2 separate regions of the Homo sapiens genome follow, and region 1 is linked to region 2. A link means that fine-mapping ties the variant in region 2 to the expression of a gene that starts in the linked region. Tissue or cell type: whole blood. Region 2 holds a variant in brackets; the other region holds the start of a gene. All regions are shown on one strand. Distances are from middle to middle.

Evidence for each region. PIP is the estimated chance that this variant, and not a neighbour inherited with it, causes the effect.
Region 1: it holds the start of PIGK, and the variant in region 2 is fine-mapped to the expression of PIGK in whole blood (INTERVAL, PIP above 0.99).

What each region holds. Positions count from the first base shown.
Region 1 is chr1:77,217,043-77,223,558 of GRCh38, forward strand. PIGK (phosphatidylinositol glycan anchor biosynthesis class K) reads right to left here and starts at 2,388. Exons shown (of 11, transcript NM_005482.3): 1 at 2,268-2,388. The coding sequence starts at 2,360. It overlaps LOC105378808 (a long non-coding RNA gene), which reads left to right and starts at 2,478. Exons shown (of 3, transcript XR_001738109.2): 1 at 2,478-2,611; 2 at 3,746-3,951. RefSeq lists an enhancer at 2,072-2,181.
Region 2 is chr1:77,160,771-77,165,770 of GRCh38, forward strand. PIGK (phosphatidylinositol glycan anchor biosynthesis class K) reads right to left here. Exons shown (of 11, transcript NM_005482.3): 6 at 3,076-3,172; 7 at 824-941; 8 at 525-635. Among named protein-coding and RNA genes, the nearest start is that of PIGK, 56 kb to the right of the region's middle. The variant A/G (reference allele first, on the strand shown) is at 2,619.

The DNA of each region.
Region 1 (6,516 bases), 57 kb after region 2:
ATCCAGAGTTCAATAAAGAGGAGCATGCAAACACATTACACTATAATTATTACATTCATTAATTCATCACACTCATTGGGCAACATGCCAGTCACTGCCCTGAGTGCTCCAAATACAATGCTGGGCAAAAATAGCCATAGTACTGCCTTCAAATAGGTTACTATCTAATTGGATAGATATACATTTAACAGATAAGGAAAGACACACAATATAATAAGAGTACAACAGAGGGACCTGACCTGGTCAGGAAAGTTTTCCTAAAGAAGTGACTGTTGGGTTAAAATCCAAAAGATGAAGAAAAGAGGAAATACAATTCCAGACAGAGGGGAGACAGCTCTAATGTGAGAAAAAGCTTAAAGGTTTTGAGAAACTGAAAGAAAGTTAGCCTAACTAGAAGTTTGAAAGAGAAAGAAAAAATTTGAAGTGTAGTCAGGGCCCAAAAAATATGCAGGGTTTTTGTTTGTGGGTCATGGTGGAGAGTTTAGAGCAACATTAAGGTGATCTTTTGAGCAACATCAAGGTCCCTGGGTGACATGATTGGAACTGCATTTTTAAAAGTTACTCTGGCTTCAATTTGGAGAACAGATTGAAAGGAAAAAACAACGACTCAAGGCAAAACATTTAGGAAACTGTTGCTCCTATCTCTAAGTGAGATATGATGGAATAACAGTACAAACCATACACGGGTTATAGTAAATGAGTGCTGTATCAAGTGTACAAATTACAAGAGTAAAGGCAAAGGTAAGAGATAGGGAAACGTTCTACAGAGGTTATGCCTTTACTGTATCTTAGCACATGAACAGAGGAAACACAATGTATAAAATATTGTAATGTGAAAAAGCACAGCAATTATGTAACTACAAAAAACAGTAATAGTATCCAAGATGAAGCAGTCAAAGTTAGAATAAAGGAGGGAAACAGAACTTCTATTTACTCATATTTATGTTCTCTAAAAATTATGCTATATAAACATCAAATATATAAATTAACAGTAATTCATAAATATATATGAAGTTCATGCTCAATATCTTTTTTTAACTGATAGGGTGTGTATTCAAAAAGTTTGGAGTCCACTGGTCTAAGCTCAAGGTGCCCAGGTGGTGGGGAGAAGAGGTTCCAATATGGAACACTGGAAAAGTAGGCAAGCACCAGGTCATAACGTTTAGACTTTATTCTGTATGCAATTAATAAATATTTAAAAGATTTCATCAGAAGAATAACCTGATCAGGCTTACATTTCGTGTAGACGAATCTAGCACCAAACTCAGGGAGTATGGAGGCCTATGGAAAACAAGATAAAGTAATCGCAAGAGTCTAGACAAGAAGTGATCACAGCCTGAATTAAGTCAGTGGAACTGGAGAGGTGAGGGCAATTTTAAGAACTCAGATCACAAAATTTAGTGATAATTAGAATATGGGATAAAGAGATTAAGACTCTCAGGTTTCTAGCTTAGGAGCAGCACATCTGGTTGAGAAATGGAGGAGAAAAGGGGTGCTTAGTTTTTCAGTGTCTTTTTAAGAGGAGGTAGGATAAGCAGAAGATAAAACTTTGCACACGGATTTTCAAATGTCTCCTGACTATCCCGGATTCTTAGTCAGCTGGATATGCAGGCCTGAAAAAGATACCAGACATCTAGATTGTAGACCGGGACTGAGGAATCATCAGAGTATGGTGAATAGTAAAAGCATTATAGAGCACCAGAACATCCTGTGTCCACGTTTAAAAATGGGAAGCTGGAGGAGCCCAGGATAAAACTAAGCACCCCTTTTCTCTTCCATTTCTTAACCCAGACGTGTTGCCCCTAAGCCAGAAACTTGAGAGTTTTAATAAACACTTATATTTATCCCATGTTCTAATTATCACTAAATTCTATTATCTGGATTCTTAAAATTGCCCTCATCTCTCCAGTTCCGTCTGACTCCTATCAAAACAGAGGGCTGCAGTTGAGTAGTAGGAAAGCAGTTGCTGCACACTGACATTTCACGAGCCTCTTGCTCGTATTTCACCTAAGAACTGCACACATGTAGGAGCAAAGGATCAGGTCCTCCTCTGTCTCCGAGGGTTTGATTATTTCAATTCATCGTTTTAAAACGCTGAAACAGACCAACAGTGTCCTAACCCGTGCCCAGTGATACCCTCCTCAAACCCAGCCTGGGTCAGGGGCTGATTGACTCCAGGAGGCGTCCCTCAGCTACTGTGTATCGGACATCTGCTGGAGGGCTCACAGCCGGCCTCCCGGCTGTGGTCAAATGAGCCTGACTCCTACCTCGATATGACTAGCGGCCACGCTGCCGAAGGACAAGAGCAACACAGTTGCCAAGACAGTCGCAGCCCGGCTGAGGCTGTCGGTGACGGCCATGTTTACCGGCTTCAGACTTCCCGCACCTGAAGGGGCGGAGGCAGTGCCGTAAAGTAGCGCTGCGGGTTTTTGCGACACCATCCGCGCCTCTTCGAGGTGGCCCTCTGGTCCGGCTTTAGAACTCTGCGGTTTTGTGGAGCTCGAGAGTCCGGGACAAGGTAGACGCAGGATATTGACCTTTTTATTTTTAACTGCATTTTCAGTTTGGAGGTTGTAAAATAGGTATAACATTTAAGAAAAAAAATTGAAAGGTGAGTGGAGGGAAAACCCGTAACTCCTTAAACTTTAAAAACTTATTTCTCTGTTCCCTTATTTATTTTATTTATTTATTTATTTATTTATTTATTTATTTTGCCGAGTGCTGCCAATTCTTTGAAAATATGAAGCTGGATGTGGTGGGAAGAACAAGCGTTTTGGCACAAAAAGATGATTAATTGGATAAACTATAAATGGAAAATGTGGGTGGGCGCTGCAATTTAGAGGCTTGGGGTCTACTACCTGGTGAAAGGATTAACATGGGAAGCTAGTTACGTTTTTGTTTCTTGAGTATCTTCTGTAATTATGGAACTAAAGCCTATCTGGAAGAGACACAGCTGGTGTATATGTATGGTCCACCATTCTCTTTATTATGTGAGTTCAGTTTTAATTTATGCATTTCATCTAGTATGACATAAACGTTTCCACGCTGCTTCCTCACAATTTTAACATTTAATGGTGAGATAAAATTCCATCCATTATTGATGCCTCAGCCAAAGTAATTGTCCCTCTGCTGCACAATGCAAAGTTTTTAAGTTTTACTATGAAAATAATATTGTAAAGAGTATCTTTTGTGTGTTTGGCTTTTTAAATCTGTTGAATTATTTTGTTTGTATAATTTTCCTGAACTAGGAATTTGGGGTCAAAATATTCCAAAACATTTTAATAACTATAAATGATGTTGCTTTCCAAAATGAACAAGCTTACAGCACTATCAGAATACACAACACCAAACCATACCATTTTTTTTCCTTTAAATTCTTTGGTATGAAATGTTACCCCTAGGTAACTATACTTATAATTCTTTGGTTACTATCAAGATCTGATGTCTTTCTTGTGTTTCTAAACTATCTCTGTGTCCTCTGATGTAAATTCTTTGTTTATATATTTATGTTTTGCATATGAATTTGAATAATATATTTATAAATAAGTAACATTAGCCTTTGCCATATTTTATGCTATTGCTTTTCCCATTCTCTTGTCTCTCTTTTCCTTTTATTTGTTTCTTTTGCTATTGCACTTTGTGAGAGGTTTCATGCTATTTAGTCAAATTTAGGTTTTCCGTTACGTGAATCCTAGAAAGTAAATACACTGCCAGAATATCTTCCATGTATTCATTAATTCAACAGATATCTATTGGATGCTGATGATTATGAAACAAAGTAGCAAAGATAAGAAGCCATTTGCTCATTCTGCTCCTTTGCCAGCAATATTTCACAAAGCCCCTGACTCATTGACTGTGAGCAGCCTTGTGGAAGAATGCCTTGAAGACCATAAGCAGGATAGGGAATAGGTTTGCACATCTCTTGCCTGAATCACTGAATTTTTACAAAAGGTAAGTTTGGTGATCCTAGCCCTTGCCTCTTCCTGTACATAAGATAATGTCTGACAAGATTAATGATTATGCCTCAAATTCATGACCAGATGTAACTTCATACCCACACTTTGATGAGACTTTACTTGTATTAACCCATTTTCATACTGCTATGAAGAAATACCCAAGACTGCATAATTTCTAAAGAAAAAGGCTTAGTGGACTCACAGTTCCACATGGCTGGGGAAGCCTCACAATCATGGTAGAAGATGAAGAAGGAGCAAAGGCACATCTTACATGGCAGCAGGTGAGAGAGCATGTGCAGAGGAACTACCCTTTATAAAACCATCAGAGGCCAGGTGCAGTGGCTCACACCTGTAATCCTAGCACTTTGGGAGGCCGAGGCAGGCAGATCATCTGAGGTCAGGCATTCAAGACCAGCCTGGCCAACATGGCAAAACCCCATGTTTCAAAATTAGCTCAGTGTGGGGGCACATGCCTGTAATACCAGCTACTAGGGAGGCTGAGGCAGGAGAATCGCTTGAACCTGGGAGGCAGAGGTTGCAGTGAGCCAAGATCACGCTACTGTACTCCAGCCTGGGCAACAGAGCCAGACTTTGTCTCAAAAAATAAAATGAAATAAAATAAAAATAAATAAATAGATAGATAAATAAAACCATCAGAGCTCGTGAGAACTCACTACCATGACAACATGAGGGTAACTGATCCCATAATTAAATTACTTCCCATCAGGTCCCTCCCTTGACACTTGGGGATTATGGGAGCTACAATTCAAGATGAGATTTGGGTTGGGACACAGCCAAACCATATCATTCCACCCTGGCCCCTCCAAAATCTCCTGTCCTCACATTTCAAAAGCAATCATGCCTTACCAGCAGTCCCCCAAAGTCTTAACTCATTTCAGCATTAACTCAAAAGTCTACAGTCCAAAGTCTCATCTGAGACAAGGCAAGTCCCTTCTGCCTATGAGCTTGTAAAATCATAAGCAAGTTAAGTTACTTCCTAAATACAATGGGGGTACAAGCATTGGGTAAATACACCCATTCCAAATGGGAGAAATAGGCCAAAATGAAGGGACTACAGGGCCCATGCAAGTCCAAAATCCAGCAGGGCAGTCAAATCTTAAAGCTCCAAAATGATCTGCTTTGACTCCGTGTCTCACATCCAGTTCACGTTGATACAAGAGGTAGGTTGCCATGGTCTTGGGCAGCTCTGCCCCTGTGGCTTTGCAAGATACAGCCTCCTTCCCAGCTGCTTTAACAGGCTGGCATTGAGTGTCTCTGGCTTTCCCAGGCATATGCTGCAAGCTGTTGGTGGATCTACCATCCTGGGGTCTGGAGGATGGTGGCCCTCTTCTCACAGCTCCACTAGGCACTGCCCCAGTGGGGACTCTGTGTGGGGGATCCCACCCCACATTTCCCTTCTGCATTGCCCTTCTGCCTTAGCAGAGGTCGTGCATGAGGGCCCTGCCCCTGCAGCACACCTCTGCCTGAACATCCGGGTGTTTCCATACATCCTCTGAAATCTAGGCAGGGTTCCCAAACCTCAATTCTTGACTTCCGTGCACCCACAGTCCCAATATCACATGTGAGCAGCCTGAGACTGCACAAAGCAGCAAGGCCCTGGGCCCAGCCCATAAACCCATTTTTCCTCCTTGGCCTCCTGGCTTGTGATGAGAGGGACTTCCAGGAAGACCTCTTACATGCCCTGGAGACATTTTTCCCATTGTCGTGGTAATTAACATGTGGCTTCTTGTTACTTATGCAAATTTCTGCAGCAGGCTTGAATTTCTCCGCAAAAAATGGGTTTTTCTTTTCTATCACGTCATCAGGCTGCAAGTTTTCCTTTTATGCTCTGCTTCCTCTTGAACGCTTTGCCACTTAGAAATTTCTTCCCTCAGGTACCCTAAATCATCTCTCTAAAGTTCAAAGTTCCACAGATAACTAGGGCAGGGGCAAAATGCCACCAGTCTCTTTGCTAAAGCATAGCAAGAGTGACCTTTATTCCATTTCCCAACAAGTTCCTCATCTCCATCTGAGACCACCTCAGCCTGGACTTCTTTGTCCGTATCCCTATTAGCCTTCTGATCAAAGCCATTCAACAAGTCTCTAGGAAGTTCCAAACTTTCCTACATCTTTCTGTCTTCTGAGCCCTCCAAGTCTCTAGGAAGTTCCAGAGTTTCCCACATTTTCCTGTCTTCTTCTGAGCCCTCCAAACTGTTCCAACCTCTGCCTGTTACCCTGTTCCAAAGTTGCTTCAACATTTTCTGTTAACCTTATAGCAGAGCCCCACTACCTCAGTTCCAATTTACTGTATTAGTCCATTTTCATACTACTGTGAAGAAATAGCCAAGACTGGGTAATTTATAAAGAAAAAGAGGTTCAGTGGACTCACAGTTCCACATGGCTGGGGAGGCCTCACAATCGTGACAGAAGGCAAAGGAGGAGCAAAGACACATCTTACCTGGCAGCAAGGCAAGAGAGAGAGCATGTGCGGAGGAACTGCCCTTTATGAAACCATCAGATTTCCTGAGATTTATTCACTATCATGAGACCAGCAGGGGAA
Region 2 (5,000 bases):
AACAAGCCTTGTCAAATGACTATACTATAAATTGTAGGGCCCACAAAAATATGTAAGAAAAGGTCTCTCTTTTCCAGGAGTTTCCCATTCAGTGAGAAAGACTTACATTCAATTAGTAAGGTCAATAAAAGACTGTGGTAAATGTTACCAAGGAGAAATAAAGGTCTATGGAGGCTCTGAAAAAAAACAAGAAATTCCCACAGGGAAGAATTCGGGGAGACTTCCTGAAGGAGACACAATCTGAGGTGGCCCCTGAAGAATATGTAGAATTTCAAAAGTTGAATCTAAAAAAAGTACATTTCTGGTAAGGAAAAGAAAATGAGTAAATAAAGGAAAACATCAGGCCTCTTGTAGAGAGACAGAGAAATACTAATATACAGGTAAAAGGTAGATATCAAATAGTTTTAAAAGCTATAATTCAACACATAAAACAAGATCCTCTAGGAGTGCAGGGAATAATACACTTCTTTTCACATTAAGGTTAGCATACCTATGTGCTATAATCAAATCAAGTGAATACTTACAAGGTCATTCATATTAGTTTGGCTAGCTGGGTTAATTTCTTCCAAAAATTCCAAGACATAAAATGTGTATCTATCCATAAGATGGACTCCAATTGCAGGATCAGGTTGATGCTATGGAAAGGGGGAAAAAAAGTATTTCTAACAGTATCATTATAACAAAATGTTTTAAATGTAACCAAAATTTCCTTCTAATGTATTAGTCTAAGAAAGAACAGATACATTCATAAAGCATTTAATTGGTTTCAGAAATAGCTGCACATTCCAAAGACACAGTTTACAAATGGGGAAAATGCACATACCGAGAGTGAATCTTCTCCCACTTGACTACTAGCTAGAGCCATTATGTTAGGAGAATAAAATCGTTCATACATGGATGCTCCTTGGCAAGTATCAATAATAAACAGTAGCTCATTGTAGCTGAAAGAAAAATGATAACATCTTTGACAAGGATCATGCTGTAAATCATACACTAATATTTCTACAATACTTTTGTAAGATGTTTAAATCATATCTTAGTCATTTCATTAGCTAAAAGTTTTCAGCAGAATTCCCAACAGAAATTTGACCTCAGAAAAGTTAAAGGTATAAATTTGTCCAAGGAAACCACAGCGAGTCTTATTGTGCCCAAGGTGGCTGCCCCAGCTCTTTTCCCTCTTCCTTGTCTATGCCATATAATTCAGAATCTAAATGAATATTCCATTCAACAAGCACTTATTTGGCACCCATGCTGTCATAGAAATTGAGCTAGGTTCAGAAAAAGAAGTATGACTTAGTAACTATACTCAAAGAGCATAAACTCTAAGTGGAACACAGACAAACATACAACTACATTGGAACGTGATGAGTACTATAAATATATATTGAGTGCCTACAATGTGCCTGATATTATGCTGGAGATGCAATAGTCCCTGCCCTCATATAGCCTAGAGTCTAACAAAATCAAAGTGTTGAATGAACACTGAGAAAGGACTAAGGAGGAACTGCAAAGAAAAGCAGATCAGAGAAAGGTGATGCCCAATACGGACAATGAGGGATGTTATTTTGTTTTACAGAGAAAAGAAGATGACATTCCAGCAGAGAGAAAAGCACATAATGTAAAAAAGTATAAGTGCTTGGGAACAGATCTGTGTAGCTAGGATTTAAAGTAAATTTGGGAGAATGGAGGGAAATTGGTTTCAAAAAGGTAGAATAGGTTCAATTTGTAAAGGATACCATATGAAGTCTGGATCTTATCCTATAAGTTTGGAGAAACCATGAAAGGTTTTTGTTTTTGTTGTTGTTTTAATGAAAGAATAATATAATCAGGTATCCATTGCACAATAAGCTGGCTAGCTGGCAAAAGTTAAAGTAGAGAGGAGACATATTTTCTGGGAAGTTTTTCTCAGACACTGGGTCTAGGTAAACAGCTAACATGGAACCTAGAAAACAAAGCATTGAATCTTGAACCACAGTATCATCGAAGAAAGTGACAGGAGACACAATTAATATGACACATTTGTTCTGTGGCAAAATATGTGGAGGCTCCTATGCATTAGAAACACCCAAAGTTAGGAGAGGTTGTGGAGTAAACAAGAGAGCAAGCTCTAGGACTGAACCATTTGGGCATGAATCCTAGCTGTGTCAAGTTTGGCAAGTTACTACTAGCTGTGTAAAGTTCCACAAGTTATTTAATCTTTCTGTGCCTCAGTTCACTCACTTGTAAAAAGGGAATAATAATAGTATCTACCCCATAGAGTTGTAAAATTAAATGAGACAATAGATGTAAAATACAGTATGCAGCCCCCAGTATGCATTCTATAACTGTAAGCTATGAATAAGACATAATCAGTGCCTAGTAAAAGCTTCCTCAACACTTCCACACATTGCTTATGCTTTTATTTTAACATTACAGTATTTATTTTGTAGCATCATTGTATACATATTTCTCTTTTCCATTAGATTGTAAACACTTTGAAGGCAGAATAAGCATCATATTCCACTTTCTGCCATAGGAATGGAAGATAGCCTATAAGTGTTTATTGAAAGTAATCAAGTTAAAAGTTTTTTCACTTACAGTCATATGCATGACAGCTTCCAACTAAAGAGATGCTTAGC[A/G]AGGGTTACTAACAATCATCCTTAATGTGAGTTGTTACAAATTTTATGCTAATCATAATTTCAGCGATTTTTTTTTCCATAGAAGAAATACGTCTATAACATTAGGGGCCAAAGAATGAGCTAGAAAGAATAGGTACAAGTTGAAAAATAAACAGATGTTCATAATCTCCATAATAATAGCTAACTTGGTTGGAGGGACACTTATTTCCTCTAAAAAAGATGCTAAATAACAAGAGATGGAATCTTAAAAGGTTAACTATTTCATGTTATAGAATAACTCTCAGTTTTTCTTTTAAAAACAACCCAGTTCAGAGGAAATAACAAATGTAAATTTAAAAGAGTCAAAGAAATTGTCAAAATAAGTTAAAAATCTTAAAAAATAAAAATTACAAATCTACGAACCATGTGAAAATTAGGTATGAATATAGCTTATGAAAAGAAGTAATTTGCTAATTACCGTCTTTTCTGCCACATTTGTTCAAAAGCATCCGCGAGTTCTATGTTGGTAATTTCTTCAGAATCTTGAAATTTTAAGAAACCATTTCCACCATGCCCTTGTATAAAGAGTAAAAAAGATCAATAGATTTTTTAATGCAAACTGCATATATCTAGATATATACATTTACTTCATTCATTACATTTTGACATCGCTTGTTATTTTATACTCTAAAATGTATACTATGAAAACAAACAAATTGAATTTTCTACTATGCCAATTAAAAAGAGAATGATAGACTATATAAAATAGCAGATATAATATCTTTAATAGGGTTTCTAATATTCAATTACAGAAACCTATATTTATGCTCTTCCACTGGCTCCATTATTATATCAGAAATGAGTTTCCATTCACAAAATGTTTCAAATACCAGGCAAACATTTTTGATGAGAAAGAAGCTGAAGACATTAGCTAGTCCCACATTTTTACTACAAGAGGTGGAGCAGAAGATTGTGCTATTTGTATGCAATCTAGAGGCAGGTTGCCTGGATTCAAATGGTAACTATGCCATGTTAGTTTAGGAAAATAATTTAATATTTCTATGCTTCAGTTTCCTCAGCCATAAAGTGAGAAATGTATCTGCAACACTATCATTAGCTTACTTATACAGTTGCTTTGCACAGGTTTTTAAAAGGTACTTTCAACTGGGCATGAAAGTAGAAAAAAAAAACTAGTCTCCTCACCTTCCTCTTGGATACATGCAGCCCTGCAGGCTTACAAGTGGTTAGTTGACTATGCCTTTGTGGGAGAAAAAAGTATCCCTCCCTTCCATTAGAATACAACCCTGTGGTAGGGCAGATCGCTTAGTAAGTGTAAGCACATACGAGATTTCAGTTCCCACTTAACACCCTGGCCAGATTCTTGGGTGCACTATACAACCCACACAACCACATACAGCAACCTTGAATATCGGCACCTAAGTCAATGCACTGCTGTGAGAATGAAATGAGTTAATAGCCACAATGATTTAGAATACTGCCTGACGTATACTATGCCTCCATAAATATTATTATCATATTATCATAATTATCAACGTTTTTATTCTCTTACAGACCCTGGCAACCTTCTACAAAAGATCAGGTAGTAAATATTTTTGGCTTGTGAGCCATATTGTCTCTAGCACAACTACTGAACTCTGCTGTGGTAGTATGGAAGCAGTCACAGAAACTGTGTAAACCAAATGGATGCAACTGTGTTTCAATAAAACTTCCAAAACAGGCAGCCAGTTCACAGGCCATAGTTTATCAAATCCTATCTTCAACTACTGGAATTTGTTCCAAGCCTGCAGTTACCCTGAAAGAGTTCCAACAGAATCAGGAAACAAACAAAAAATAATAATAATAAATCCTTTAGTTTAGTACATCAAATAAAGCTAAGCTACAAAAAACTGCACTTCATCTTGTTTGCCATAAAAGCTTGAAAATTCCTTGTAATTTTCAGATAAAGTAAAATAAAATTTTTCCTGGCTTCATTAACTCTATTGAGTTAATTTATAAAGTTTATAAATTAAGCCTTGAAAGTTATAAATAAATGCAACACGATAGAGAAAAGCCACTAAGTAGGGGTCATTAACTATGTTGACATGTGATATCTAAGAATCATTCTGCACCTGCTTTATCATCAGTTGAATGGAATGCCCTCCAAAAAATTTATAGAACATCTTTTGATTAACATCCATATTTACCGAATACTACTACAAGACAGGCAACTGGTGATAAAAAAAAAAAAAAGCAAGAAATATATAATCAATGACATCTTGGAATTCAAAATACAGTGAAGGCAACAGATACCCAAACAATAAAGTAATAGTAAGTTAAATGCTATGAAAGAAACTAAAAATTAACATGGGCATGCACAGAGGAAAGTCCAGACCAGCCAAGGAG